Regions from separate parts of the Homo sapiens genome. Here regions 1, 2 and 4 are each reported to be linked to region 3. Evidence: microRNA targets listed by miRTarBase, many of them from high-throughput screens and not tested one by one. Region 3 holds a microRNA gene; each other region holds the end of a gene's coding sequence. Distances are from middle to middle.
The links. The annotated mature microRNA hsa-miR-6799-5p reads GGGGAGGUGUGCAGGGCUGG and lies in region 3 at 4,883-4,902, opposite strand. An mRNA with a match to its seed (bases 2 to 7 or 8) in the 3' UTR can be bound and repressed. Matches are read on the target gene's strand: a 7mer-m8 pairs with bases 2 to 8, a 7mer-A1 pairs with bases 2 to 7 and ends in A, and an 8mer does both.

Region 1 (7,110 bases), 2.5 Mb from region 3:
TTCATTTTGGGAAGACGAAAACATTTTAAAGATGAATGGTGGTGATGGTTGCACAACACTGTAAATGTACTTAGTGCCACGAAACTGTGCACTTTAAAGCAGTTAAAATGGGCCAGGCACAGTGGCTCATGCCTGTAATCCCAGCACTTTGGGAGGCCGAGGCAGTGGATCACCTGAGGTCAGGAGTTTGAGACCAGCCTGGCCAATATGGTGAAGCCTCGTCTCTACTAAAAATACAAAAATTAACCGGGCATGGTGGCACATACCTGTAATCCCAGCTACTTAGGAGGCTGAGGCAGGAGAATCACTTGAACCTGGGAGGTGGAGGTTGCAGTGAGCAGAGATCGCCCCACTGCACTCCAGCCTGGGTGGCAGAGCAAGACTCTGTCTCAAAAAAAAAAAAAAAGATGGTAAGATGATTAAAATGGTAACCTTTATGCTATGTGTATTTTTATCAGTATACACACACAACACACACACTTTTTTTTTTTTGAGACAAGGTCTCACTCTGTCACCCAGACTGGAGTGCAGTGATACAATCACAGCTCACTGCAGCCTCAACTCCTTAACTCAAGCAATCCTCCTGCCTCAGCCTCCAGAATAGCTGGGACTACAGGCACAAGCCATCACGCCTGGCTGATTTTTTATTTAGTGTACAGATGGGGTCTCGCTATGTTGCCCAGGCTAGTCTTGAACTCCTGAGCTCAAACATTTCTCCAGCCTCAGCCTCCCAAAATGCTGGGATTGCAGGTATGAGCCACCATGCCTTGCTTTTACTTTTTTCATTTTAAAAAAAAAAGTTTATTTTTATTTTGTAGAGACGGGGTCTCACTATGTTGCCCAGGTTGGGCTTGAACGCCTGGGCCCAAGTGATATTCCTGCCTTGGCCTCCCAGGGTGCTGGGAGGTGATCGCAGGTGTGAGCCTCTGCACCCAGCCCACACACGGATTTTTGACCACTTCTCCCCTCCTCCCCAGCCAACACTCTAGCACAGCCACCATGGTCTCTCACCTGAACCAGGGCGGTGGTGTCCTCATTGGGCTCCTGGCTTCCACCATCGCCCCCTGCAGTCCATTCTCCACATCGCAGTCAGAAGGTCTTGAGATCTGAATCAGCGCACACCCTCCTCACCTCAGAAGCCTCCCATGGCTCCCACCTCATCCAAAGTGCACATTGTGGCCGGGCACAGTGGCTCACGCCTGCAATCCCCGCACTCTGGGAGGCTGAGGCGGGTGGATCACTTGAGGTTAGGAGTTTGAGACCAGCTTTAGCAACATGGCGAAACCCTGTCTCTACTAAAAATACAAAAATTACCTGGGTGTGGTGGCACGTGCCTGAAATCCCAACTACTCAGGAGGCTGAGACTCGAGAGAATCACTTGAACCAGGGAGATGAAGGTTGCAGTGAGCCGAGATCGCGCCACTGCACTCCAGCCTAGGTGACAGAGTAAGACTGTCTCAAAAAAAAAAAAAAAATTGCATTCTGTGGTCCATGAGGCCCTGATCAAGCTGCCTGTCCTCTCTTGCCTCACCTCCTCCTCTTGCTCTCCCCACTCCCTCTTGCTTCAGCCACTCTGGCCTCTTCGCTATTCCTTCAACAAGCCAGGCACACCACCCCGAAGGTTTTTGCACTTACTGTTCCCTCAGCCCCCAGAGACCTGCCAGCCTCACCCTCACCAGTCTTGGGCTTCTACCCAGTAACCACACCCTCCATCATCCCCATCACCCTTACCCTGCTTTCACTCAAAGTTATGAATCACATTTCTTGTCTTTGTCCCCGCTAATATTTAGTTCCATTAAGAACAGGAATTTTTTTTTTTTTTCTTTGAGACAGAGTCTCACTCTGTCACCCAGGCTGGAATGTAGTGGTGCAACCTTGGCTCACTGCAACTTCCCCATCCTGGATTCAAGCAATTCTCCTGCCTCAGCCTCCCAAGTAGATGTGATTACAGGCACCCACCACCACGCCCAACTAATTTTTGTATTTTTAGTAGAGACGGGGTTTCACCATGTTGGCCAGGCTGGTCTGGAACTCCTGACTTCAGGTGATCCGCCCTCCTAGGTCTCTCAAAGTGCTGGGATTACAGGCATGAGCCACCGCACCCGGCTATTAACTGAATTTCTTGTCTGTGTTCCCACTAATATTCAGTTCCATTGAGAGCAGGAATTTTTTTTTTTTTGAGACAGGGTCTTGCTCTCTTGCCCAGGCTGGAGTGCGGTGGTACAGTCACAGCTCACTGCAACCTTGACCTCCAAGCAATCCTCTCACCTCAGCCTCCCGAGTAGCTGGGACTACAAGGCATGCACCACCATGCCCGGCTAATTTTTGTATTTTTTGTAGAGACAGGATCTCACTATGTTGTTCAGGATGGTCGCAAACTCATGACCTCAAGTGATCCTCCTGCTTTGGCCTCCCAAAGTGCTGGGGTTACAGGCATGAGCCATCACGCCCAGCCGAGAGCAGGAATTTTTGCCTGTTTTATTCACTCCTGTGTCTCCAGTGTTTAAAATAAGCTTTGGCACACAGCAGATGCTCAAAAAATAATTGTGGGTTTTGGGTGGGTTGTTTTTTTAGTTTTTTAGAGACAGGATCTTGCTGTTTCCCAGGCTGGAGTGAAGTAGTGCAATCATAGCTCACTGCAGCCTCGACCTCCTGGACTCAAGCAATCCTCTCCTCTCAGCCTCCTGAGTAGTTGGGACTACAGGCATGCACCACCACACCCAGCTAATTTTTTAATTTTTTGTCCAGATGAAGTCTTGCTGTGTTACACAGACTGGTCTCTAACTTCTGGCCTCAAGTGATCCTCTGGCTTTGGCCTCCCAAAGTGCTGAGATTACAAGCAAGAACCACTGTGCCCAGCCTCAAAAAATATTTGTTAAAAGGAAGATTAAACAATGGAGACCAAAAGAGAAACCAAGAGAAATAGGAGGAGAAAAGGAAGAGATAAAGGGAAGGAGACAGGGGACACTGAGACTAGGGACCTGGAAGCTGTGGGGTGCGGGGGCAGGGGAAGGGGAGCAAGGTGGAAGAAAGTGTTGGGGTAAGATAAGTGTGGAGGAGAGAAGAAAGAGAATCAGCTGGGGCTGGGCACAGTGTCTCACGCCTGTAATCCCAGCACTTTGGGAGGCCGAGGCGGGAAGCTCACTTGAGGTCAGGAGTTCAAGACTAGCCTGGCCACTCTGGTGAAACCCTCTCTCTATTAAAAATACAAAAATTATACGGGCATGGTGGTGGGCGCCTGTAATCCCACCGCCACTGCACTCCAGCCTGGGTAATAGAGCAAGACTCCATCTAAAAAAAAAAAAAAAAAAAAAAGAACGAGCTGGGGACAGAGAGCAATAGGGAGGACACAGAATGAGCAGAATGAGTCAGAGACATACAGAGTGGGAGAGAGAAACAATACCAAGAGACACCAGAGAGATAAACAGGACACAGAAAGACTGAGACGCAGAGAGACAAACACAGAAAGAGAAAAGAGCCAGGACACACAGCAACAAGGAAACGAAAGAGTAGGAAAAAATGGGGCTGGGAGAAGAGAGATGAAAACCAAAGAGAGGGGGGCCAGTGGGAACCGAAATGGAGAGGCCCCTCCCTCAAACTCACCATTTGCTGGTGGCCAGGGCTTTGGACTGACTTGCTATCCCCAGAGGATCCCAGCTGGGGCTTTTAAACCCTGAGGGACAGAGGTGGTGGAGAGAGAGAACATGTGACATCGTTCTCAGGGCTTGAGATCACCAGTTTATTTATTCCTCAGAGCAAGTCTATGAAGAAGTACCATTAGCATCTTCATTCTACAGAACCACAGAGGCAGGGCCAGGCACAGTGGCTCATGCCTATAATTCCAGGGCTTTGGGAAGCCAAGGTAGGAAAATCACTTAAGCCCAGGAGTTCAAGACCAGCCTGGCTAACATAGTGTGAAACCCCATTTCTATTAAACAAACAAACAAAAAATGCTTAAAAATTTTAAATAAGTTATAAGGCTGGGTGCAGTGGCTCACGCCTGTAATCCCAGCACTTTGGGAGGCCAAAGTGGGCAAATCACCTTAGGTCAGGAATTTGAGACCAGCCTGACCAACATGATGAAACCTCGTCTCTACTAAAAATACAAAAATTAGCCAGGCGTGGTGGCGGGCGCCTGTAATCCCAGCTACTCAGGAGGCTGAAGCAGGAGAATGGCATGAACCCAGGAGGCGGAGCTTGCAGTGAGCCGACATTGCACCACTGCACTCCAGCCTGAGCGACAGAGCAAGACTCCGTCTCAAAAGAAAAAAAAAAAAAAGAAACAGAGGCCGGGTGTGGTGGCTCATGCCTGTAATCCCAGAATTTTGGGAGGCCCAAGTGGGCAAATCACGAGGTCAGGAGTTCGAGACCAGCCTGGCCAACATGGTGAAACCGCGTCTCTACTAAAAAATACAAAAATTAGCCAGGCGTGGTGGCAGGGGCCTTAATCCCAGCTACTTGAGAGGCAGAGACAGGAGAATTGTTTGAACCTGGGAGGTGGAGGTTGCAGTGAGCAGAGATCGAGCCATTGCACTCAAGCGTGGGGGACAAGAGTGAGACTTCTCTCAAAATAAAAATAATAAAAAATAAAAATACAAAAAAAAAATTAGCTGGGTGTGGTGGTGGGCACCTGTAATCCCAGCTACTCAGGAGGTTGAGGCAGGAGACTCACCTGAACCAGAAGGCGGAGGTTGCAGTGAGCAAGATCATGCCACTGCACTCCAGCCTGGGCAACAGTGCAAGACTCCATCTCAAAAAAAAAAAAAAAGAAACACAGAGGTCAAGTGACCTGCCCAAAGTCACACAGTTTGTAATGAGAGGAGCTGGAATTTGAACCCGAGTAGTCTCGCCCCAGTCAGTGCCCCTAACTATCACCTATGCTGACTACAAAGAAGTGCTGGCTTCCTAGATTCCCCTTCACAACCACCCTCTGGGGAGTGGTGGTGGGGTAAAGGGGAGGTGAGCAGAGCAGCTGACCTTCCTAACCACCTCCACAGATCTCCAGGAGCCACAGCGTGGGAGAAGATGCTCAGCCTCACTCTCCTGGGAAGGCCTCCAGCTCAAGCGGGGAGGCTGGACAGGAACCAGCTTCCTGCATGTCAGATCCCAGGCCCTGTCCAGAGCCAGGCCTCAGTCTTCCAGGATGGAACATGGCCTCCCCACCTCGGACTCCTTGCCCAGAAGCTAGACCTCAGTTTCCCGGCCTTGGTTTCCTAGCAGCGCCCCAGGCCAGAGGCTGCACCAGTCTTCCAAGGCAGCACAGCGCTTTGGTCATTGGCTCTGAGATTTCCAGACAGGCTGAGAAGCAACACCACCGCCGCCGCCATCCACTCTCATCTCTCTGACCCCAGGAAGTGGGCCAGCATCGTTCCCTCTCGGCAGCCAACTGAGATCCCTGGGTGATTCAGCCTCTGTCCCTGACATGATAATTACACCAACAGCAATTCCCAGAACCCCAGCTATTGTCCTATATCACCCCACCCCTCCTCTTGTCTCCTGTGCTGTAACACGAGGGCAGACACTCTGCTTCTCCCCAGAGACATTTGTCCTTTGCTCCAAGCACACAAAAAACTGGGAAGCCCTTCCCACTGTCTGACCTTCAAAGGCCCTGCTGCTGCTAAGCTGCTTCTCCCTACTCCAAGAAAAGAAGAGCTCCTTAAGGAAGGGGAACAGCCCACCCGGGACAAAACAGACAAAGGCCACACCCCAGGAAGGTCTTTCCCACACAAACTTGGGAGGGGAGGCATCTCTGCAGACAACAGGACAGACACAGCACGAGGCAGCCGAGGCTGTCGTTTATTGCAGATGGACACGGATTCAGGGAGGTGAAGAGGCAGATGGGCTGTGGGCTCTGTGCTCAGCATCCCACAGCAGGAGGGGCAGGAGACAGAGCTCAGGATGGGATCTTCCTGATGGTGGAGGACCCGGCCTGACCACAGAGTAGCTGCAAGAGGCAAGGCCCCGAGCTGACACCCCCTGGGCCCCCATTCCGCGGGATGACGGCTCCAGAGACGCTGAGCGATGTCATTAGGAAGAAGGCCGGACCAATCCAGAGACGGTGCATCCTCGGCGTGGAGCACAGAGCTCTCGAGGGCTGGCGATCCGGGTTGGGGTGGAAGGGAGAGTTACCCGGGTCTTCGCCCCTCCGCGGCCTCTGGCGTCTCTCTGGGTGTCTGGCGGCTCGGACGGCGGTCAGGGTCGCTGTAGCGGCGGCGGCGGCTCAGCGGCAGCTGGAGCTGGGGTCGCGGCCCGCCGGGGACTCCCAGGAGGCAGGAGAGGGAGGCAGCGGCGGGCGCCGGGACAGGCGGCACGCCCGGGCGGGCAGCACACGGAGGGGACGGCGCGCTGGGCTGTGGGCCGGCGGGTGCCGCGGGAGACCGCGTGGGTACCCAGATGAGACCGTAGTACACGGCGAGCAGCACGGCAGCTAGCGAGACGCAGAGGAAGTAGGCGCATACCGGAGCCAAGCGCAGCCAGCGCCCCCGCGGGCCCTCGCTCAGCCCCGCGCCTCCGGGGCTCTCGGCGCCGCCGCCCACGCAGCTGGTCCCCCGCATCCCCGCAGCCCACTCGGCTCCGCGCCGCAGACCGCACAGGCCCCGCCCCCACCAGGCCCCGCCCCCACCCCGCAGACCGCCCCGCTCTCTAAACCGCCCGCCTCCGGCCCCGCCCCCGCCAGCATGGTCACGCCCCCACGCGAGCTGCCGCCTCCGCATCCTAGGCCCACCCCCTCCAGCCTCCGCCCCACCACCGACAGGCGGAGGTGCTACCCCGCCCCCCTCGCTCCAGCCCCGCCCCCGCGCTTAGCCCCACCACCCCAATCACCGCCTCCTCCCGCCACAACACGGTTCTCTTCCCAGACTCGGACTTCATCCAGCCCAGGCATCTAGCCCGCCTCGGAGCCCGCCCCCTCGTCCCGCTCAAGCCCTGCCTGGAGCCCTAACCCGCCCTGTGCCGCAGCCAGTCTCACTTCTCTACCTGTCGGACTGCTCTACTCCAGTGCTCGAGCCCTGCCCGCTACGGCCTCTGGCTCCCACACTCTAGTTCCGGAATCCCCGCTCTCCTCCCGCGCGGGTTCCCGCGCGACACCCCGACCACGCCCCCGCTGACGGC
Region 2 (7,110 bases), not on the chromosome of region 3:
GGTGGACAGCCCCGGCCCCTGTGCAGGGAGGTGACTGTCGGGTCCAAGGCTCCTGGCCTCCTGCCTGGAGCCCAAGCCAATGTGTCTCTTGCTGGCCAGAGAGCTGTGGGGCCACCAGGCGGCCCAGGACCCGGGGATGCGAGGCCCCACGTCCCCCAGGCCCATCCTGGGTGTGGGCTGTGGCTTGGTTGGCAGATGGCCCCGGCCCATTGTCCCAAGGTGGCTGAGGCCGTGGTGGGCGGTGGGAGTGCAGGACGCGCTCTCTCGGGGCCTCATTTCTCTCCTCCATTTCTCATCAGGTCTGGCAAACCACGGACAGGCCAGGCACATGGTAAGAGGAACAACCCATGATGGGGTACGGTGCGCTCACCCATGAGCTCTCTGGGGTGTTGGGAAGAGGCCTGGCCAGCCCTGCCAGGTGCCACGTGGAAGCTTCCAGGAGGCCTGGCAAGACCAGAGGGGCTGCAGCATGTGGGGGCCATGGCCCCTGTGCCAGGCCCAGCGGTGTGCGGCCGACCAGCCCTCAGGGCTGCCCTGGGCCAGGCTGGGGGTCCGTGTAACTCACTGGGGTGGTGGGGGGTTGGCCAGGCACAGCACCTCCCAGCGGGAGCCCTGCAGGTTGAGGTGGAGCTGGCCCTTGGCTGGCTGCCCAGGAAGTGCACCCCCTCTGCAGGGACCAAGCCGGAACCTCCTGCTCAACGGGAAGTCCTACCCCACCAAAGTGCGCCTGATCCGGGGGGGCTCCCTGCCCCCAGTCAAGCGGCGGCGGATGAACTGGATCGACGCCCCGGATGACGTGTTCTACATGGCCACAGAGGAGACCAGGTGGGGCCTTCCCAGGGCAGGCGGGAGGGCTCCGCACAGCGTCCCGGCCCTCACCACCACCTCTGCCCACAGGAAGATCCGCAAGCTGCTCTCATCCTCGGAAACCAAGCGTGCTGCCCGCCGGCCCTACAAGCCCATCGCCCTGCGCCAGAGCCAGGCCCTGCCGCCGCGGCCACCGCCACCTGCGCCCGTCAACGACGAGCCCATCGTCATCGAGGACTAGGGGCCGCCCCCACCTGCGGCCGCCCCCCGCCCCTCGCCCGCCCACACGGCCCCTTCCCAGCCAGCCCGCCGCCCGCCCCTCAGTTTGGTAGTGCCCCACCTCCCGCCCTCACCTGCAGAGAAACGCGCTCCTTGGCGGACACTGGGGGAGGAGAGGAAGAAGCGCGGCTAACTTATTCCGAGAATGCCGAGGAGTTGTCGTTTTTAGCTTTGTGTTTACTTTTTGGCTGGAGCGGAGATGAGGGGCCACCCCGTGCCCCTGTGCTGCGGGGCCTTTTGCCCGGAGGCCGGGCCCTAAGGTTTTGTTGTGTTCTGTTGAAGGTGCCATTTTAAATTTTATTTTTATTACTTTTTTTGTAGATGAACTTGAGCTCTGTAACTTACACCTGGAATGTTAGGATCGTGCGGCCGCGGCCGGCCGAGCTGCCTGGCGGGGTTGGCCCTTGTCTTTTCAAGTAATTTTCATATTAAACAAAAACAAAGAAAAAAAATCTTATAAAAAGGAAAAAAACCAACCGGTCCTTCCCTGTGTCTTTTGTTCCCAGTCCCTCTCCCTGACTCAGGCCCTGGGCCCCCCACCCCCATCGGGCGGCCCTAGGCTGTGGCTCTGCCGTGGAGCTGGAGGCCCCTGGAGGCCACCTCAGCCAGGACAGCCACCCCAGCCTCTGGGCTCTGTTGCTCTCCCACCTGCCCACAGACCTTCCCCTGCTGGGGCCTGGCGCGGTGCCCTCTGCCCTCCCCAGGGGGCAGCAAGCGGTTGCAGGGCCCAACCCCCTTCCCCAGCAGAGCTGTGCTGAAACCGTCTGTGCGTCTGTGTCTGCGGCAGCGGTGGGCCGGGGACTGCCTCCCGGCAGGCAGAGCTGGCCCTGCCGAAGACCCTGTGGCTTCCCACCAGGGCAGCCAGTGCAGCTGGGCCAGCGAGGCCTTGGAGTGCTCCAGCCAGAGGCCCAACCTCCTGGCCATGTAGAGCCTGGCCCCAGCCGCCTGAGGGTTTCTGCCCAGAGCTCTGGCCCCCAAGCAGGTGTGCAGTCTCCACAGTGAGAATCTGCTTAGATTTCTGCAAGCACATTCTCAGAAATCCTGCTTGGCCCATCCTCCGGCCGGGGACAGGACTTGCAGGCCGGGGGACAGGTACAGGCCGGGCCACCAGAAGGAGGGGTCCGGTGGATAGCCTGGCTCCAGACCACCCCCCTGGCCGTGCTACCTCAGCCGGCCAGGAGGGGTCCGCCCAGGCCTCGCTCAGGGAGAGTAGCTCCTCTGTCTCTCCCCAGAGCTGTGCCTTTGCTCCCCCAGCCCACCCAGGCGCCCTGTCATGTGGAAATCTCAGCCACGGAATTAAAATAGAAACCACTTCTGCTGTCTCCCAGGAGACAAAGATAAGGGGGCGTCCTGGCCTCCGTGGGAGCCTGTGCTGGGGCCCAGCAGTGACAGGACTAGGTGTCAGGGACTCGGCTGCAGTGCACGTCCCACCCACCCTCCCTGGGCTGTGGCGCCCCCCCACCCAACCCCAGCCCCCACCAGCCAACTCTAATCTGCAGCCAGCATCCGAGTGACCCCACAGCCTGAGGACTTGCCTGTAGTGCGTCATCAGACGGCTGGGAAATCAGGCCCCTGACCTCATGAAGGACACAGCTCCCTCTGAGGCCTTTTCCAACCCTGGGGGTCTGGAGCTCAGTGAAGACCCCAGCTCCCTTGTCTCCCTTCCCCAGGCCTCGGGCTTGCCTCCCAGTGCTGGCTGCAGGGTTCTGGCCTCAGCAGCTCTTCCACCCCCCAGGGCCTGTCCTTTTCTGGAGTCAACATGTGGGCTGTGAGGTGTCCTAGGTCCTGGGCTCTATCCCAAGGGCAGGGAGGCCCTGAGGAGATGTGGGGCCCTTTCCCACCCCAGACACCCTCCCCGGCCAGACACCCAGGCTGCAGTGCCCTCACAGGGCCAAGCTCTGGCCACCGGTGCTGGGTGGGGCCTGGGCTGCTTGTGGGTCTAAACCTGGGCTTAGAAGTGAGTGGGTACCGGCTGGGGGGAGCATTGGCCTTGGTGCCCAGGCCATGAAGGGGTCTCCCAGCTTTGCTATGTCCTCGTTAGGCCCTTCCCTGCTGATGAGACAGCAGCCTGCTTTCTGCACCAGCAACCCCACAGGGGCCGCGGCTCCCCAGGGCCAGGGGCATCTCAGGGTGGCAAGGCCATCATGCTGTCATGCCTGGAGACCTGTCCTGCCAGCTCCGCTCCACCCTGCTAGGGTCCTCTGTCCACCACTCAGCCCAGCCTGGCTTCCCTGCAGTGGAGCTGAGTAGCAGGGGCCTGCTATCTGCCAGTGTCACAGGATGGCGGAAGGGACCAGACCACTGCAGCCCAGGGGTGTGACCCAGCCCCATGCCCAGCCATCAGCCCTGCCAGCTCCCTTCACACCCGCCGTGTCCTGTGCCCCCCTCTCCACTCGGGCCCGTCCCACTGTGTCACTGCCCCTGCCTGTGACCCACCGCAGCCTCAGAGGTGGAGACCAAGGCCACTGCTCTGCACCCATTGATCCTGACCCCTGCCTGCCAGGCCCAGAATAGCCCCGTCGCATTAGGGAGCTTCTGGCCGCTGCCCAGGGACTGCGGCTGGGGTGAGGGCAGTGCAGCAGCTGGCACACTCCTTGTCCCACCCCACCCTCCGTGTGTCTCCAGGGCACCTGGCCAGTGCCGAATGCCATTCCTTTGCTGCCACCCTGGGAGGGGCCTGCCTCTACCCCCATCCACTCTTCTGGCAGGGCTGGGGACCTTGGGGCAGGTGGTCTCCCTCCAGAAGAGCCCTGTGTTCAGCCAGCCCTGTCCTCCAGAGCAAGCCCCACAGGTAGCAAGCCCCACAGGTAGCAAAGTCAGGGAGGGTAATGGCTTAGCCCCAGGCTCCCAAGCTGGGCAGAACAGGGCAGGGAGCTGGAGAGGGTTTGGCAGTGGGCCCATGAATCCAGCCTGGGCAAGGCCCTGCTGTGAGGGACCCCTAGGGACCCCTGGGCCTGCCAGGGAGGAAGGGCTGCCCAGAAAAGGTACTGACTGATGCCTCCTCACCATCTTCTGCCTTGGCTGGCACAGGTCCCAAGTGCAGAGGGGGAGCTGGTCAGGCTGGTCAGTCGGGCGGGGGGGCGGGGGGCATGTTTCTGGCCTGCTGTCACCATGGAAATGGCAGTGGCTGCAGGGTGTGTGTGCAAGGGAGGAGGGTGCTGCCACAGAGAGCCCAGCCAGGACCACCATGAAAGCCAGGAGCACCGAGGGCCTCTGGTTGGCTCACAAACATGCCTGGTGCACCAGGCAGAGGGAACAGGTAGGTCTCCGTGTCCAGCCCACAGCCTCCAAGACACAGGGGGAAGGGTGTCCAGAGTCAGCTGCCCCCATAGGGCCTGATCACTGGGCTTCTGGGATCTGCCTGTCTCCCAGGCCGACGCTCAGCTGGGGCCAGAAGGCTCAGAGAAGGGCCCATGGGGACAGAGCACCAGGAAGCCCGTGGGTGCGGAGGTTCCCCACCTGGGGCCAGGCTCTACGGGGCTCTAGGGCGGAGGCACTGTGGTGAGGCGTGGTCAGGCACGCCCTGGTTGGGAGGAGGCCAGAGTGGGGGTGTGGGGGTGCGGTGACTGGCATGACCCCTCAATCTCCCGCCTGACCCCTCGAGGTCAGGCCCTGGGCCCCCAGGCACGCAGCTGGTCCTGGGCGGTGCGGGAGAAGGGACTGGAGTGTCAGCCCCAGCCCGGGGCACAGAGGGCACGCCCACTCCTTCCCCTCCTTCCCTTCCTAACTCCTCACCGCCTCCCCGGCCGCCCCCTGGGTGGAAGTGCTTGGGGTGGACGCCTTAAGCGCGGATCCCTCGGCGCTGGTGCCCGCCGCCCCTTCCCTGCCTGGGAGGCAGACGCAGACCTCCCCACACCCCCTACCAGCAGCTTCTCGAGCTGTTTCTGGAGGTGGCGGCGCCTTCCTTCCTGAGCCCTGCCCTCCACCCAAGGAGCCTTCAGCACCACAGACAGTGTTGGGGCGGGGCGCGGGCGGGGGCGGAGCGGGACATGGAGACCCGGACAGGGCTGGGGGCCGTGCCCGCCGGGAATCTGACTCCGCTCCCGCGGCGCGGCTGTTGCTATGGAAACCGAGCAACAAAGGGAAGCGGGACAGGCGCCGCGCGCGGCGGGGTGGGGGTGGGGTTCTCCCGGAGCCTGCGACCCCTTCCCGCGGCGGAGCGCAGCCTGGGCGCCCAGGGCCGGGAGTGTTGGACCCCTAGGCCCAAGTCACTAGGGCTCCCCGAGAGCCGAGGGCCAGGCTCCCCGCACCCTGCCCGCCGCCCCGGGGACGGCCCGGCCAGGCGGCCCCGACGTCGCCATGGAAACAGCCGGGGCGCGGGCGGCGCCGCGGTCGCCCGGGCGGGCCCCTGTAGACGCCACCTCCGGCGCGAGGGGCCCGGGGGCGCCAGGCCTGGCCCGGCTGCCCCGCACCCGCCACCCCCGGCAGGTGCGCCCCGCCCCCGCGGCGCCCCCAGGCGGCCCCCAGCCCGGGGGACGGGTTATCGAGGCCCCGCCCCGGCCGCGGAGCCAATGGGCGCGCGGACAGCCGGGCAGGCGGGGCTGGGCGCGGGCGGCGGCGGCCCGGAGGAGAACGGGCGGAGGGCGCGGGCCGACCGGGCGCACCGACCATGGCCTCCAAATGCCCCAAGTGCGACAAGACCGTGTACTTCGGTGAGTGCGTGCCCGCTCCCGGCCCGCTCGGTGCATCCCGCCGCCCTTCGCGGCCAGTCCCGCGCCGCAGAGCCGCGGCGTAACTCGGGGTGCGCCCGGCCCCGGCCCCGGACCGAGGATGCGCGTCCCGGAGGCTGGCTGGCCGCGCTGCCCAAGCGGCTAAAGCCAAAGGGTGGGGCTGCGCGAAAGCGGGGGCGGTCACGCCCGAACCCCGAAGCGGCTTGTGGGGGCGGGGCAGGGACCACCCGGGCGGGGCTTGTGGTGCCCCGGGATGAGGCCAGTGTTTGGGGGAGCGCTCGGGGATCCGCGGACGCATCCCGGTTCCTCGGACGGCGCCGGGCGGGGCGGGGCAGGGCGTGGCTGTACGCCCCGGGTGCGTCCCGCGCGCTCCCGTGGGCCTGGGCCCTTTCTCCTGGACCCCCTACACCCGCTTCCCCCGGGAACAAGTGGCCGGGAACAGTGACCCCCAGCTCCCACTCCGGGCTCCGCTGAGCTGGGCTGGGCCAGGTTTGGACTCTGTCGGGATTCAGTCCAAGCGGGGGCGACCTTGGCCTCTGCCTCCTGCTTGTCCCGACGCATTCCCTTGGCGCCAGTTCCCCCAGGAGTTTCACACGGGGGTAGGGTGGGGGCGGGTGTGACACGCGAGTTCCCGCGAACGTGAGAGGGACCTTGTGCTCAAGCAGCCCAGGTGTCCAGGATCCCTGCCTCCTCAAGGTCAGAACAGCCCTGGACAGGATGCAGGTGGTGGCGGGAAGAGGGATGTCTCGCAAGGCGGCCCTCGGTCTAGCCCCTCCGGCAGGCGCGCTCCCCCCGTCTGGGCTTACTCACTCTCTGGGCCTGGGTGCGCCCTTCCTACCCCCTTCCTCCTGGCTGATTCGCTGCCCAGCTTTCTCCAGGGTGGTAAGGTCCCTGCCCACCTACCCACCAGCTGCTGCACGAAGGGGGGCAGACTTAGTGAAGCAGAGAGGAGGGCCGGGACCAACAGGGCGCCTGCCCTGGTCGCCCCATACCCAGAATGCGGCCAGGCTGCAGGGAAGGCCGCCACTGGGCTTCCCCGGCTCACAGGCTGGAGGGGGTTGAGGGGAGGTTGTATTTTGCCCGTCCCAGAGGGGAGGGACCGGATTTGGCCTGGAGTGCTTCTGGCGTGGCTGGGAGCCGAGGGGCTTCCGGCTGCCTCTCCTGGAGCCCGCTCAGCCCTCAGTCTCTGTCCCAGCGAGGGCTGTCTCTGTAAGGCTTAGGGTGGGAGACGGTCCCCAGGGCCCTTCTGCAGTCCAACTGCCCATGACTTTACCCCAGGCCGGGCCAGGCCAGCCTGGGGCTCTCCAGGGTCTCGGCCAACAGTCCTGTGGACAGCCCGGAAAGGCCTGCCTGC
Region 3 (7,110 bases):
ATATATACACATGTACACACATAGAGGGACACAGAGATACCATGAACACTGCCACATATAGACACAGACACGCATACATACAGATGCACACACAATGACACATCCACACACAGGGGATGCACGCAGACATGCATGCACACGGGCAGGTATCGACACACACAGGCGAACGCATGCACGCATGCAGGCATGCACACAGACAGGCATGCACACCCAGAGATTTGGTGGTGTACATCAGCCCTGGCCCCTGGCAGGTGCTGGACATGCTGGCTGAATGGAGGGAACTGGTGCATTAGCACCTACTGTGTGCCAAGCCCCTCAGCACAGGGTCCGAAGAAACTGCTCCATGAGGTCAGTCAGCCAAGGCGACAGAAGCTCGGGGGAGCTCAGTGGCAGAGGGAGGGGTTTAGAGCAGAGAGTCTGGGGGCCAACTGCCACTTACTGCCTAGAATGGTGATGTCTCACCTCCAAGCCTCAGTTTCCCTGTGTGCATATCACACTGGCTGTTCCTCCTTGCCAGCTCTGTTCGGCAGGTGCAGGTGCCCCCTGCCCAGTGCCTGGCTCACTACAGGAGTTTCATACACACTGGCTATTGTGACTGTGAGCAGTAGGGGAAGGTTCCCAACAGATGTGAAAACCCCTGACAGGGCTATGGTAATTCAGGTAGCACGGCCTGGAATCACCCACTGACCGGGTGAGTGACGCTGGGCCAGGAGCTCCCTCTCCAAGCCTCAGATTCCTCATCTATAAAACAGGCACAGTTAACAGTCCCTCGCAACAGGGCTGGAGTGAGAGCCCGGGTAGCAGGGACCTCAGCTATGAGGCTGATCCACGATGCTGCACAGGGTAGGCGCTGGGCCTCGGGCTGCCTGCTTGCCTCCCCGAGTGCAGCCACGTAAGGGGACAGAGGAACCGCCCCAGCTTCAGAGAAATCCTGACCCAGACCCTCCAGTCCCACCTGGTGCGCCGTGGAGCAGGAGGCCCCCAGATGCCAGCAGCAGGCCACCCCGGGTTGGGGAGTGCACGGCGTTCATTACCTGGAGGCGGGTAGCACTGCAGCAGCCGCAGGAGCTTCACCGAGAGCCAGGGTGCTGGGACGAAGTAGTAGGTGTAGTCCTGGAGGTCGGTGGAGGCAGAGGAGACGATCTGGCGGGGAAGAGCAAGAAATAAGTTGGGGGCTGGGGTGGGAGGGGCACGTGGGTCCACATGCCAGGGTGGAGCAAATGGTGCCTTCCAAGGGCAGTGCTGTCAGTGTTAATGGTTTTGTTAGTGGGTTTTTTTTGTAGAGACAGGGTCTCACTATGTTGCCCAGGCTGGTCTCGAACTCATGGCCTCAAGCAATTCTCCCACCTCAGTCCCGCAATGTCCTGGGGTTACAGGCATGAGCCACCATGCCCGACCAATGCAATGGTTTTATGAAGCAGGAATCTGAGGCTCTGGGAAGGGAGCGAGGAAGCGTCAGGCACACTGAATGGGGGCAAAACTAGGACTAAGCCCGGCTGGTTGATCTTTCCAAGTAATGCTGGTGTGTGGTGGGCAGGAAAGGTCTCTGCTGGTTCCCTTCTGTGTGACAGTTTCCCAGGGCCCCCTCCTCACTCGGCTCTGAGCCTCCCATGCCCCAGGCTTCCTCCGTCAGAGCACACAGCGCACCGGCTCCTGGAGGCTGTTTCCTGTAGTCCCCCTACAAGGCTTGAAGCCACTCAGGGGCAGGGATTGGGTCTGACCCTTTTTTGGGTCCCTAGGCCTAATACAAGGTCAGATAGGAAGAGGTTCGGGGAAGAGGCAGGGAATTAGTGAAAGATTGAAAGATCATGGCCAGGTGCAGTGGCTCACGCCTGTAATCCCAGCACTTTGGGAGGCCAAGGTGGGTGGATCACCTGAGATCAGGAGTTCAAGACAAGCCTGACCAACATGGTGAAACCCCATCTCTACTAAAAATACAAAAATTAGCTGGGCGTGGTGGCACATGCCTGTGATCCATGCTACTTGGGAGGCTGAGGCAGGAGAATTGCTTGAACCCGGGAGGCAGAGGTTGCAGTGAGCCAAGATCACGCCATTGCACTCCAGCCTGGGCAATAAGAGCGAAACTCCATCTCAAAAAAAAAGAAAGATCATGTGACTTTTTTTCCTCATTGCAAACTCCTATTCAACCTTGAAAAGCCCTTCTCCAGGAAGCTCTGTCCCACCTCCGTGCTGGTCTGTGTTCCTACCTCACTGTCATCCTGGCACACTGCAGTACTCAGATGTGTGATGAATGAATGAAACAATGACTGAGGCTGAGTGCAGTGGCTCACACCTGTAATCCCAGCACTTTCGGAGGCTGAGGCGGGAGGATCACTTGAAGCCAGGAGTTTGAGACCAGTGTGGGCGACAAAGCAAGACCGATCTCTACAAAAAATACAAAAATTAGCCAGGCACCTGCAGTCCCAGCTACTCGGGAGGCTGAGGCGAGAGATCGCTTGAGCCTAGGAGCCAGAGGCTGCAGTGAACCATGGCTGCACTACTGCACTCCAGCCTGGGCGACAGCAAGACCCTGTCTCAAAAAAAAAAAAAACCTGAGAAAGAAACAATGAGTGGGCCAGGCGCAGTGGCTCACGCCGGTAATCCCAGCACTTTAGGAGGCCGAGGCGGGTGGATCACGAGGTCAGGAGATCGAGATCATCCTGGCTAACACGGTGAAACCCTGTCTCTACTAAAAATACAAAAAATTAGCCGGGCATAGTGGCAGGCGCCTGTAGTCCCAGCTACTCGGGAGGCTAAGGCTGGAGAATGGCGTGAACCTGGGAGCTTGCAGTGAGCCGAGATCGCGCCACTGCACTCCAGCCTGGGGACAGAACGAGACTCCGTCTCAAAAAAAAAAAAAAAAAAAAAAAAAAAGAAACAATGAGTGGATGCACGAGCTGGTGTGTTCTTCTCTTTGCCTGCGAATCCAGGCCTCTTCCTGACTGCCCAGGAGATGCGCATGTGTATTCTAAGTCTCAATTCTGGGATCGCCGCCCCCAGGAAGCCTTCGTGGACTCACAGGCTGTGTTAAGTGCCTCCTATGGGTGACCTATCCTACCTCCATTATAGCACGAGTCACCCCTTTTCTGACAATCTGTGACTGAGTCACCTCCCTGCCAGAAGGACAGGGAGCTCCTTAAGAGCAGAGCTTGGTTCTGACTCATCTGTGTCCCTGGTGTCACCCGACATGGAGCCTGGCATGCACAAGGCCTCAGGGGATGTTCCTGGGCAGGACAGGAGCAAAGGTGGGAGAGGGACGCCAGGCAGGAGTGAGAGGCTGCACAGGAAAGAGAGAGGCGGGAGGCAAAGCCAGAAGAGGGAAAGTGGGAGACAGAGAGAGAAGTGGGAGAGGGAGGAGGTCATGAGGGCGGCTGGCTCCCGGGGTGCTCGGCCCGCGAGGCCCTGTTCTGAGCACTCTATCCACAGCGCTCTGTGCCTCCAGGTGGGCACCGGTATTATCCCCACTGAACACAGGGGGCAGCTGAGGCCAGGGAGGTGAAGCCACTTGTCCAGGGCCACCCAGCCAGGAAGAGGCCGAGCCAGGATGAATCCAGCTCAGAGCCTGAGTTTGTAAACCTTGGGCTGGGCTGCCTCTCAGGGAGAGTGGGGGCCTGAGGGGTGTCAGAGGGCATAGGGATGCCAGGGCCACCTCCAGCAGCCAATATCTAGGCCACACCCACCCGGCTCAGGCGCGACACAGCCAGAGAGACGCACGTCTTGAAGTCATCTGGGTTCTTCTTGCAGAGACAGGTGATGAGGCTGACGGCGGCCGTGACCACACCCTGCAGGGGCAGAGGAGAGACAAGTCAGGCCCCTGGGGGAGGTGGTACCTGAGAGCAGAGGCTCAGGAGCGGGACAGGGTCGGGATGTGTGTGCAGTCGGGAAGATGGGGTTTAGGGGTGTGCACATGTGTCACTGTGCGTGCTTTAGGGGTGGGGTGAGGAGGCCACGGGGCCTCGGGCGCCATGGCCAGCACTGACCTGGGTGTGTGGGGTGTCCCTGGCAGGACCCCAGGCAGCTGGGTAAGGAGCAGTGAAGGGGCGAGACTCTAGAGGGTTGGGACTGTGGGGGTGGGACAGTCAAGGTTTCTGCGCTGGTGCGCAGGTGATGGGCGCTGTTGGGGGAATCTCCAGGTATTAGAAACAGAGTGGGATTTTCTAAGGGACTGGGTGGTTGGTGAGGGGTGTGGGGGTCACTGGACAGGATCCCTGGCCAGCCAGGGGAGTGTCAGAGATGGGGATGGGAGGGTTTCTGGACACTTGGGCAGGTAATGAGTACCGGGGACACTGGATCATGGTTTCTGGTGTCTGGTGAACGTCAGCGCCGAGGGGGAAGCTCCAGGAATCCAGGGGGATCAGGGCTGAGGTGGGAGCCCCAGGCATCCAGGGGGCGTGAGGGCTGAGGTGGGAGCCCTGGGTATCCGGGGGCGTGAGGGCTGAGGTGGGAGCCCTGGGTATCCGGGGGCGTGAGGGCTGAGGTGGGAGCCCTGGGCATCCAGGGGGCGTGAGGGCTGAGGTGGGAGCCCTGGGTATCCGGGGGCGTGAGGGCTGAGGTGGGAGCCCCGGGCATCCAGGGGGTGCGTGGGCTGAGGTGGGAGCCCTGGGTATCCGGGGGTGTGAGGGCTGAGGTGGGAGCCCCGGGCATCCAGGGGGGTCAGGGCTGAGGTGGGAGCCCTGGGTATCCGGGGGTGTGAGGGCTGGGGGCTCACCATGTGCTGGTCATTGAGCAGGTGTACCACACGCGCCGTCCACTCGCCCATGGGCACCAGGTCAGGCGAGGCCTTGTACAGTCGAAGGAGGCACAGGGCCGCACTCTGCTTGACACTGTCCATGCTGTCCCTGTGGGGACACCATGCAGGGCAGGGGAAGCAGAGTCAGTGACCCCAGCCCTGCACACCTCCCCTCCTCTCCTGTTCCTCCCAGGAAGGGTGTGCGAGGCCAGCGAGAGGGACAGACAGCCAGGCGGCCGCAGGATCCAGTCTGGCGCTGACCTCACGGCCCACCAGGACTCAGTGTCTTCATCTGCAAAATGATTGCATCTCAGTAACCTCACAGGGCTCAGGAACATGTCAAGCCTGGCTCTGCACCTTCATTCATTCACCAAGCACCTACTGGGTGCCCATGGGGTACCAGGCACTGCTGTTCACTCCATGGATAGAGTGGTGAATAAAGTGGTCCAAACACTTGTCCTCACAGGGCTTACATTTCAGACAGCACCACGAAAACACATACATCAAATACTGTCAGGGCTGGGCATGGTGGCTCACGCCTATAATCCCAGCACTTTGGGAGGTCGAGGTGGGAGGATCACTTGAGGCCATGAATTCAAGACCAGCCTGGGCGACAGTGAGACCCAGTCTCTTCAAAAATACAAAAATTAGCTGGGTGTGGTGGCGCAGGCTTGTAATCCCAGCTACTCGGGAGGGTGAGGTGGGAGGATTGCTCGAGACTGGGAGGTCGAGGCGGCAGTGCACCATGACTGTGCCACTGCACTCCCTCTAGCTTGGGCAACAGAGTTAGAGCTGTCTCTAAATAAATAAAAAAATTTAAAAATAAACAAAACAGAGTAACTTAAGGAGGAAAGACTGAAAATCCTCTGCAACAGAACATCCCAGGCAGAGGGAACAGCCTGTGCCAAGGCCATCAGGAAGGCGGAGCCCGTGTGTAGGAGGAGCAGCAAGGAGGCCTGCAGGCTGCGGCCTGAGCCATGGGGCAGGAGGGCTGCAGATAGGACAGGGAGGGAACAGAGAGCCAGACCCTGCAGGGCCTTGTTGGCTGAAGTGAGGACTTGGCTTTTTACCGATTGGGAGATGAAAGCCGCTGTGGGTGGTGAGCAGAGAATCAGCGTGATGTTAACACGACAGCAGGAACAGCTGCCCCCGGACCCCTTCGGCCTGTCCAGCACTCCCACAGGTCTCTGGGTGGATTCACACGTTTATCTTCTCTCCACAACAAACTGAGAAAATGGGTGTATTTTTGATCTGGCTTAGGTTTTTAAAGGGTCCCTCTGCCTGTTGTGAGGGAACAGACTTTGCAAGGCTCTTTTGAATCCAAGGGAATATATTCACAGGTTCTGGGGGTTAGGGTGGCTCACGCCTGTAATCCCAGCACTTTAGGAGGCTGAGGTGGGAGAATCACTTGAGCCCAAGAGTTGGAGACCAGCCTGGGCAACATGGTGAGACCCCCATCTCTACTAGAAATATGAGAATTAGCCAAGCGTGGTGGCGCATGCCTGTAGACCCACCTACTTGGCAGGCTGAGGTGGGAGGATCGCTTTAGCCTGGGAGGTGAAGGCTGCAGCCTGGGTGGCAGAGCAAGACCCTGTCTCCAAACAAAAAAAAGGGTGGGGGTACTTTGCAGATATGATAAAGTTAAGGATCATGAGATGGAGAGAGGATCCTGGGTGATCCAGGTGGACCCAATGTCATCACAGGGTCCTTATAAGGGAAAGATACAGTTCAGAGTCAGAGATGATGTGAGGATGGAACAGAGGTCAGGCAGGAGAGAAGATGCCACACTGCTGCCTTTGGGGATGGGGGAAGGGGCCACGAGCCAAGGAAAGCAGGTGGCCTCTAGGAGCTGGAGAAGGCAAGGACGCGGCCTCTCCTCTAGGGCCCCCGGAAGGGACGAGCCCTGCCCACGCCTTGATTTTAGCCCCGTGAGATGGATGTTGGACTTCCGACATCCAGAACCGGTGTTTGACACCGCTGTGCTGGTGGTAATTCATCACAGCAGTCACAGGAAACCAGGGTCAGCACTTGCCTGGCACAGAACCTGGCAGCCAGCGGGCAGCCCATCTCAGAGGGCTGACTCCAGGCCCCAACCATAACCCAGCTCCTAGCACAGCAAAGAGCATGGAGCATGATGTTGTTCTAGAAGAGGATCCCAGGGGAGCACCTTCTGGGGTCAGACACGCCTGCATGAGGTTGTGACTGTGGGGCACAGATGGGGGTAAGCCACTGACCCTCTCTGATGGGCTGTTTCCCCTTCAGGAAAATGAGGAGCCTTGTCGGCTTTGGGGAGAAAGAAATAAGATGGTGGGCCAGGCATGGTGGCTTACACCTGTAATCCCAACACTTTGGGAGGCTGAGGCAGGCGGATCACTTGAGGC
Region 4 (7,110 bases), not on the chromosome of region 3:
CTGACCCCTTTCCACTGCCTTTTCTTCATTCTTCCTATGGCCCTTCATGAAAGAGGCTGTGGATGGTAAGTGAGATTTCTCCCATCACACCCAAAACCCCAACAACCAGCCTTGCCTGGAAAGTGAGTTGGGGCCTGCTCAGAGCACCCCCTTGCAGCTCTGCCCTCCCGCCCCATGCTTCAGGCAGCTTGCTCTCTCCTCATAGGTAAGAGGAAGCCGGTGCTGTCTCTATTTGACTATGAGCAGCTGATGGCCCAGGAGCACAGCCCTCCCAAGCCCTCCTCGGCTGGGGAGATGTCACCACAGCGTTTCTTCTTCAACCCGTCTGCTGTCAGCCAGAGGACCACCTCGCCTGGGGGCCGGCCCTCCGCCCGGAGCCCCCTCAGCCCCACAGAGACCTTCAGCTGGCCCGACGTCCGTGAGCTCTGCTCCAAGTATGCCTCCCGCGATGAGGCACGCCGAGCAGGGGGCGGCCGGCCCCGCGGCCCACCCGTCAACAGGAGCCACTCGGTGCCGGAGAACATGGTAGAGCCACCTCTGTCGGGCAGGGTGGGCCGCTGCCGCAGCCTGAGCACCAAGAGGGGCCGGGGAGGCGGAGAGGCTGCCCAATCCCCTGGGCCTCTGCCCCAGAGCAAGCCGGATGGAGGCGAGACCCTGTATGTCACTGCAGACCTCACCCTGGAGGACAACCGGCGGGTGATTGTCATGGAGAAGGGACCCCTTCCCAGCCCCACTGCAGGGCTGGAGGAGAGCAGTGGCCAGGGACCAAGCTCACCGGTGGCCCTGCTGGGGCAGGTTCAGGACTTCCAGCAGTCTGCAGAGTGCCAGCCGAAGGAAGAGGGTTCCAGGGACCCGGCAGACCCGAGCCAGCAGGGCAGAGTGAGAAACCTTAGAGAGAAGTTCCAGGCCTTGAACTCTGTCGGTTGATGCTGACTCCTGGGGGAGGGAGGAGTCATGTTGGAGGTTGGGGAAGAACCTGGGCATCCTTCCCCTCAAGCCTGGGCTCATGGAGCCCCTGCCCAGGGCCCTCAGGTGGGCGGAAAGTCCATCCCCTCCGCCCTTCAGGAAGGATGCTCCCGTGTGCAGGGGTCTCCTGCCTGTGCCATCCACTGGGGCTCGAGACAATTTCCCACTCACCTGTGAGGCCGGTGTGGCTGCTTCCCTTGTAAATAGTTGTTCTCTGGTAAGAAGCCAAATATTTAAGCTCACTTCTTCCCAGAGAGAGGAAGCTCTGCTCAGGCCTCCAGCGTTGGCTGGCCATGGCCACAGCCAGATGGAGGAGCCCATCCCCAGGAGACTCAGGCAGTGGCCTGGAGAGGCTTTGTTCTGTAACGGTGCCTTTTCTTAGGGTCCAGGCAGGAATGAAGCCAATAATTTATTGCTTTCCATTCTGTGGTATGATGTGCGTGTGCGTGAGTGTGTGGCCCCTGTTTATTCCCCTCCTGTCAAGAATGAAGTGGATTCAGTTCAGGTACTTTTGAGGGTTGTTGTGCTGACCCTGTGGTTGTCGCTGATGTACACACATTTCATTATTTGCCAATGGTGCAATAACCACTGCTGACCAACCCACTATGTGTGAACTCCTTCCTAGGCTTGGCTGGGGTAGGGAAGGTTATTCATGGGCCAGGGATGTCTTAGGGAGATGGAGACATGGAGGTTGTTCCTTCCACACTCAATTGTCACTTGGGCTTATGAAACATAAGGCACCCGGGTACTGGTGGGGGAGGTGGGGCAGGAGGATGTGAGGGCGGGCTTTTTCTTTCTGCTGCCTAGACTCCCATGGGCTTCTCTGTCTAGCAGCAGCCTGCTGTCCTGTCTAGGGTAGGGGGTCCCGCATGCCAGCCTTTTGCTCTTTTCCCCAAGGGCCAGAGTTGGACCAAGAAAAAGGGAGGTGGTGAGGTGGATAGACTGTTTTTCTCATAAGCAGATGCTCCCAGTATCTGGTGCCTTTTGCGTTTCTCTCCGGTCCCCAGGAAACATCCTAGAAGACAAGGATTTTTTTTTTTTTTTTTTTTGAGACAGAGTCTTATTCTGTCACCCAGGCTGGAGTGCAATGGCGTGATCTTGGCTTACTGCAACCTCCGCCTCCCAGGTTCAAGCAATTCTCGTTGTCTCAGCCTCCCAGGTCGCTGGGACTACAGGCATGAGCCACCACACCCAGCTAATTTTTTGTATTTTTAGTAGAGACGGGGTTTCGCCGTGTTGACCAGGCTGGTCTCGAACTTCTGACCTCAGGTGATCCACCCACCTCGGCCTCCCAAAGTGCTGGGATTACAGGGGTGAGCCACTGCATGCGGCTGAAGGTAAGGATTCTAAACTCGGAGACTAGAAATGTCCTAAAGGTGTCTGCAACATTGGATGAGGAGTACAAGTGCATTTTTCTGGGATGATTCCTCCCTTTTTATCACATTCTCAGAAGTATCTTTGATTCAGAAGAGTTAGGAATGCCTCCCTATTTCAGTTGGGTTTTCTGCCCTTTCTCCACAGAGGTCCAGACTCATTTTGCTTAATTTTTTTTCTAGCTGGGGCCTGGGAGGTAGAGGCTTCAGGGCCTGGGTGGTAGAGCTGCCTGACAAGTGTTCAGCAGGGCTGCTGGGTCAGGGCCCTGTGGGCCTTCTGACCCAACCTGAAGATGGGTCTGCTAAGTCTAACAAGGTCAAGGGAAGATCAGAGGGACCCAGATTCTTTTTTATCCCCCACTTGAAACGGAGTCTTGCTCTGTCGCCCAGGCTGGAGCGCAGTGGTGCAATCTTGGCTCACTGCAACCTCCGCCTCCCTGACCCTCACACTGTCCAGTGCCCTTGTGGTTACTCAGCATCATATCTTGAGACTGGCCTGGCAGGAGCCAGTGACTGTGGAATGACCACAGAAGATTCAGGGCAGCTGCCAGACCAGGGGCTATCTCTGCCCTGCGCTGCTTCTGCTCAAGAGAGGTTGTCACTAGCCTCTGATCTTCCCTTGAAGAACCCGACTGGGGCTCTTCAGAGGGTGGGGCCCAGGAAGTTGTAGTTAACCCCTTCCCCAGGCAGTCCTTACACGGCCATCTAGGTATGCCTGGGAACCTTGCACCAGGTCGGTGGTTCTCACTGGCTGCCCATTGGAATTATCTGGGGAGCCTTCTGGAAACGCAGTGCTTACATTCCATCTCCCTAGACCAACAGAAACTGCCCTCTGGAGGTGAATCCCAGGCTTAGAGATTCTGATGATTCTGCGGTCCAGTGAGTGCTGAGATCTGTCCTGAGCTCTGTGGGGAGGGGCCTGGACTGATCACTGCTTGGAAATGATTTTGCCCTACAGTAGGCCTTCAAGTTGATCAAATGCATGAATGAGCAAGCTTTTCTTGGAGTTTGTGATGAAGCCCAGGAACCGGGTGCTTGCAGTCGTCCCATAAGGCTCCCAGGGACAAGCTAGAGAATCTGGCTGTCCCTCTGTCTCCATGGTGCCAGCCCTCTTAGGCTCAGTTCAAAGGGAGAGGAGGCTAGTTAAATAAGAAACTGAGAGAAACATGGAGCATTATTGATTTATTAGAAAAACTAGTAAATGGGTTTCCTCTGGTTGGTGGAAGCACGGTTGAGCAGGTGGAGGACAGGACCCAGCTGGCCCCAGGGCCAGCCCCAGATTGCATGGTCTGTGCCCAACAGGGTTGCATTCCTCTGCAGCCGCCGCCTCCTCATTTCCTCCCTGAGCTTGTTTGTCCAAGCCACCAAGCCATGTGGTCCCGCTGGCTTCATCCTCCTCTGGATTCCTGCCCCCCTCCCATGAAGGGAGGAAGAGGATTCAGGGTCAGCCTAGGGGACCCTGGCTCCCTCCGATAGGCAGGAAGGAGGAGGGATGCGGAGGAGAGGCTGAGCCTTCCACGGGCCTCCTGTTAGGGGTGTTGGTGGAGGCCAGGTTGGGGAGGGAAGCCTAAGGACCCTCCACACCTCCCACAGCCAGAGTCAGTTGAGGCTGGGACAAAGGGGAAGGAGAGAGGGAAGGAGGACCGCCTGACCTTGCCCAGAAGGAGCTTCCTCTAAACTGCCCTGGGAAGGAAGCCTGGTATGCTGGTGTGGACTGGAGCTGTGTCAACCTCGTTTGGGAATACTGTCAAAAGACTGTAGAGTAGAATAAGGAGAGAAAAAAAAAAAAAGACCTTGCTAGGGCACTGGGAGAGCTTAGCCCTGGTGTGGCACACACAGGGTCTCCCAAAGCTGGATGCCTGCATTTTCAGTCTAGTTGGTCGAATGTCTTGGAGCCTGGGTGACAGGAGGGATGTGTGGGGAGCTGGCAACAGAATGGTCACATGCAGCTGGCTGCCCTGGACCAGGCCAGGGGACCTGGGGTGGTGAGATGCTAGCTCTTCCACTAGAGCCCTTCCTTTCTCGGGTCTGTGGAGTTGCTTGCTGGAAATGCCTCACTTCAGGTGCTGATTTGGCACACGTGGAAGGGGGAGGGTGGGCCCTTGTCCCTAGGCTCCCTAAAGACTGGCCCAGGGAAACAGTTGAGGGAGATGTTTGCCACCATCTGCCCTTCAGCAAGGAACCTGCTCTCTGCCCCAGAGGAGGACATGCCTGCAAGTGCACCAAAGGCCTACTTTATTGCTAGGTGAGTGCAGTCACCTCACTGCCTTGGTTTCCCCAGATACAGAAAGAGGCTGGTGAGTGATACACACTAGGTTCCCTGTATAGGGTCATATGTACCAAAGCCAAATGAAGACCTTGCTCACCAGGGCGGGAACCTGGGGATGTCAGGCTCCATCGGATGACGTCTTCCTTCCTGTGGCTCCTGCCTGCTGCAGTTGGTGTCACCCTGACATATAGTGTCAGGGCCACAGGGTGGAACTGATTTCTGCCGGCACTGGTCAGCACTCAGGGTTCCTCAGGGGGCCTCATTCTGGATGCCTGCCCCTGTGGCTTCTACCTGAACCTCACCCACTTCATCTCCATGGAACTAAGGTCCTTCTCACGGGGAAGGTGATAGAAACTTGACTGCAGGCCCTGGGGACTTTCATGGTTTCCTTGGGGGAAAATGCCTGCTGCCCTCCGCCCTCCCCCCCACCCCCGACCCGCTTGACTGCTCTCTTGGACCTAACCCTAGTTTGATACTGGGCCAGAACTGTGTTGCTTTCGGAGTAGAGTGGTGGGGAAAATATGGAATGAGCTTTCTCTTCCTCCAGAAGTATGACCTGAGCAGCAAGGGGAAGGCCATTCCTGGGGACGTTGGTTGCAGAGCTTCTGGTGCTCAGGGCTGGAGGGTGGTAGATATTTGACCTCTGTACTCATGTGACCCCCTCCCCGCCAAGACCTGGGGCCAGGACGTGGAGAAGCTGATCAAGGGGTACCACACCTTCATGGCTCTGGCCCTGACATTTGTCCCAGTTGTGCAGGAGTAGCTGTCACATGGGTGGTGATACCAAGACATGGCTGCGTCTGCCACCCCGAGAAAACAGATGATCAACTTTACTGTCTGCCCAGCCATTACCCTCCAAAGTCCCAGCTGCAGACAGGATGCAATTGAGCATTTGGCTTTGGGATGCTTTACTGCAGGTGCGGGGGGTATCCATCTTATATCTGGGGGCCCACACTGTCCCGTAGGGGGCCTATGTCTGTTGGATATTGCTGGTTTGGCTGCCACTGGGAGTGGGGCGAGGGTCCCAGCATTGAGAGGGAGAGCCTTAGGCAGTGTTGTGACGCACCTGTCACTCCTTCAGATCAGAGCCCTGTGCCCTAGCCACGGTTTTCAATGAGGAATGGTCTGACCTTGCTGCCCTTCCTGGGACCGCCTGTGGTGGCACAAAGGGTGCTAGAGGCACTCAGCCAGGCCCTGCCAACCGTGGGAGGGTACCCTTTGATCTGGGGGGAGAAGCAGAGAGGAGGGATGTGGTGGCCCCTGAAGTGAGAGTCCCAGTTCTGCGGAAGCCCAGTGGGAAGGAGGCTGGCAGCTCCCAAGGCCCTGCACCCAGTCTGGTCCCCTCAGCCCCCCAGAGCCCCTGGCCCAGAGCTAGGGCTTTGTGGGCCACCTGAAGGCTCCTTCCTCATGCCCCTAGGGGGCTGGCCATGCATTTCCAGTGTCTTCTTCCTTTCCCCTTTCCCTGGCTGCCACCAGGTGGGAGGTGACCCGAAGCAAGACTTGCTTTAGGAACGGGCAGCGTTTGAAGAACCCCATCAGCCTTCTCCAGCTCTTTTTTTTTTTTTTTTTTGGTTGGGGGTAAGGGGCCTGTGCCCCCTCGGCTCAGGAGGAGGGTGGGAGAGGAGGGCGTGTGCCTCAGAGAACCGTTTCCTGCCCCCAGGCCTGGAGGCCCCAAAGGCGCCAGAGGAGCTGGGAGCCCCTGTCCCTGGAGCGGAGCCAGCGCGGGCGAGGGCATGGAGGGGGCGTCGGCCCAGGACACGCGGGCGAAGGCAGCTTTTGCAGTGCAGCGTGGGGCCCGGGGGCCCGGCCCGCGACTCGACTCATCTCGATTCGACCGGCGGGCGGCGGCGAGAGGAGGCCAAGGCCTGGGCTGCCCGGTCTCTGCGCGTCCCGACTCCGCCGCGCCCGCCAGCCCCACCTGCTACTTCTTTTTGGGGAAGAAGCTGAATCTCTTCTCCTTGTCTTTCTTGCCGAGGCTGGCGTCGGGGCCGGAGAGGGAAGGCAGGGGCAGGCTCTGCGCCTTGACGCGGATGCTCTGGGACTCGTTGATGGCGGTGCTCACGCCCTGCAGCCAGGACAGCATCTCCTCCTGCGGGGCGGAGGGTCACGGTGGAGTCTGGAGGCCCACAGCCCCCCACCTCCCGGGCCAGGCAACAATGGTGGGGGCTCTTGGGACTGCCCCTTCTGAGGGGGCCTCCAGGGCAAGCGGCCTGGGGTCCTCCACCTACCCCCTTCTTAGCCAGGTCTGGGCTAGGCTGCCCGCGCTTACCTCATCCTTGCCATGGAAGAGCCACTCGCTGCCATTACTCAGCCTAGGAGGACAAAGGGTTTCCTGTCATGGAGACACCTCTGGAGGGGGCGCTGGGCAGAGGGCTGGCTCTGATCCCACAATACCCTGAGCCGAACATCCAGACCCCTCTCAGGCAGCCCAGCACTTTCTGAGAGGTCAAAGTCTGGACCATCAGCCTCTTTGATTTGAAAAACCCCTGAGGAGCAGCTCAG

Region 1: miRTarBase lists INAFM1 as a target of hsa-miR-6799-5p. Seed matches in the 3' UTR shown: 7mer-m8 at 5,821-5,827.
Region 2: miRTarBase lists MTA1 as a target of hsa-miR-6799-5p. Seed matches in the 3' UTR shown: 7mer-m8 at 1,146-1,152.
Region 4: miRTarBase lists PLEKHG3 as a target of hsa-miR-6799-5p. Seed matches in the 3' UTR shown: 7mer-A1 at 2,085-2,091, 7mer-A1 at 2,118-2,124, 7mer-A1 at 2,254-2,260, 7mer-A1 at 3,753-3,759, 8mer at 3,922-3,929 and 7mer-m8 at 6,745-6,751.

The regions. Positions count from the first base shown.
Region 1 is chr19:47,274,364-47,281,473 of GRCh38, reverse strand. It overlaps INAFM1 (InaF motif containing 1), which reads right to left and starts at 6,589. Exons shown (of 1, transcript NM_178511.6): 1 at 5,751-6,589. The coding sequence starts at 6,554. The coding sequence ends at 6,126. It also overlaps a transcript of CCDC9 not described here. RefSeq lists a cis regulatory region at 2,941-3,078 and silencers at 6,218-6,667, 7,028-7,110.
Region 2 is chr14:105,469,168-105,476,277 of GRCh38, forward strand. It overlaps MTA1 (metastasis associated 1), which reads left to right. Exons shown (of 21, transcript NM_004689.4): 19 at 300-331; 20 at 674-825; 21 at 898-1,562. The coding sequence ends at 1,048. CRIP2 (cysteine rich protein 2) reads left to right here and starts at 5,654. Exons shown (of 8, transcript NM_001312.4): 1 at 5,654-5,738. The coding sequence starts at 5,696. RefSeq lists enhancers at 1,677-2,540, 4,096-4,628 and silencers at 4,657-4,706, 4,717-4,806, 4,897-5,046, 5,317-5,386, 5,567-5,676.
Region 3 is chr19:49,789,663-49,796,772 of GRCh38, reverse strand. MIR6799 (microRNA 6799) reads right to left here and starts at 4,907; the gene lies at 4,839-4,907. AP2A1 (adaptor related protein complex 2 subunit alpha 1) reads right to left here. Exons shown (of 23, transcript NM_130787.3): 5 at 4,709-4,838; 6 at 3,681-3,782; 7 at 1,035-1,143.
Region 4 is chr14:64,742,777-64,749,886 of GRCh38, forward strand. It overlaps PLEKHG3 (pleckstrin homology and RhoGEF domain containing G3), which reads left to right. Exons shown (of 17, transcript NM_001308147.2): 17 at 206-7,110. The coding sequence ends at 927. It overlaps SPTB (spectrin beta, erythrocytic), which reads right to left. Exons shown (of 36, transcript NM_001355436.2): 35 at 6,878-6,920; 36 at 3,507-6,697. The coding sequence ends at 6,530. Among named protein-coding and RNA genes, the nearest start is that of MIR7855, 39 kb to the right of the region's middle.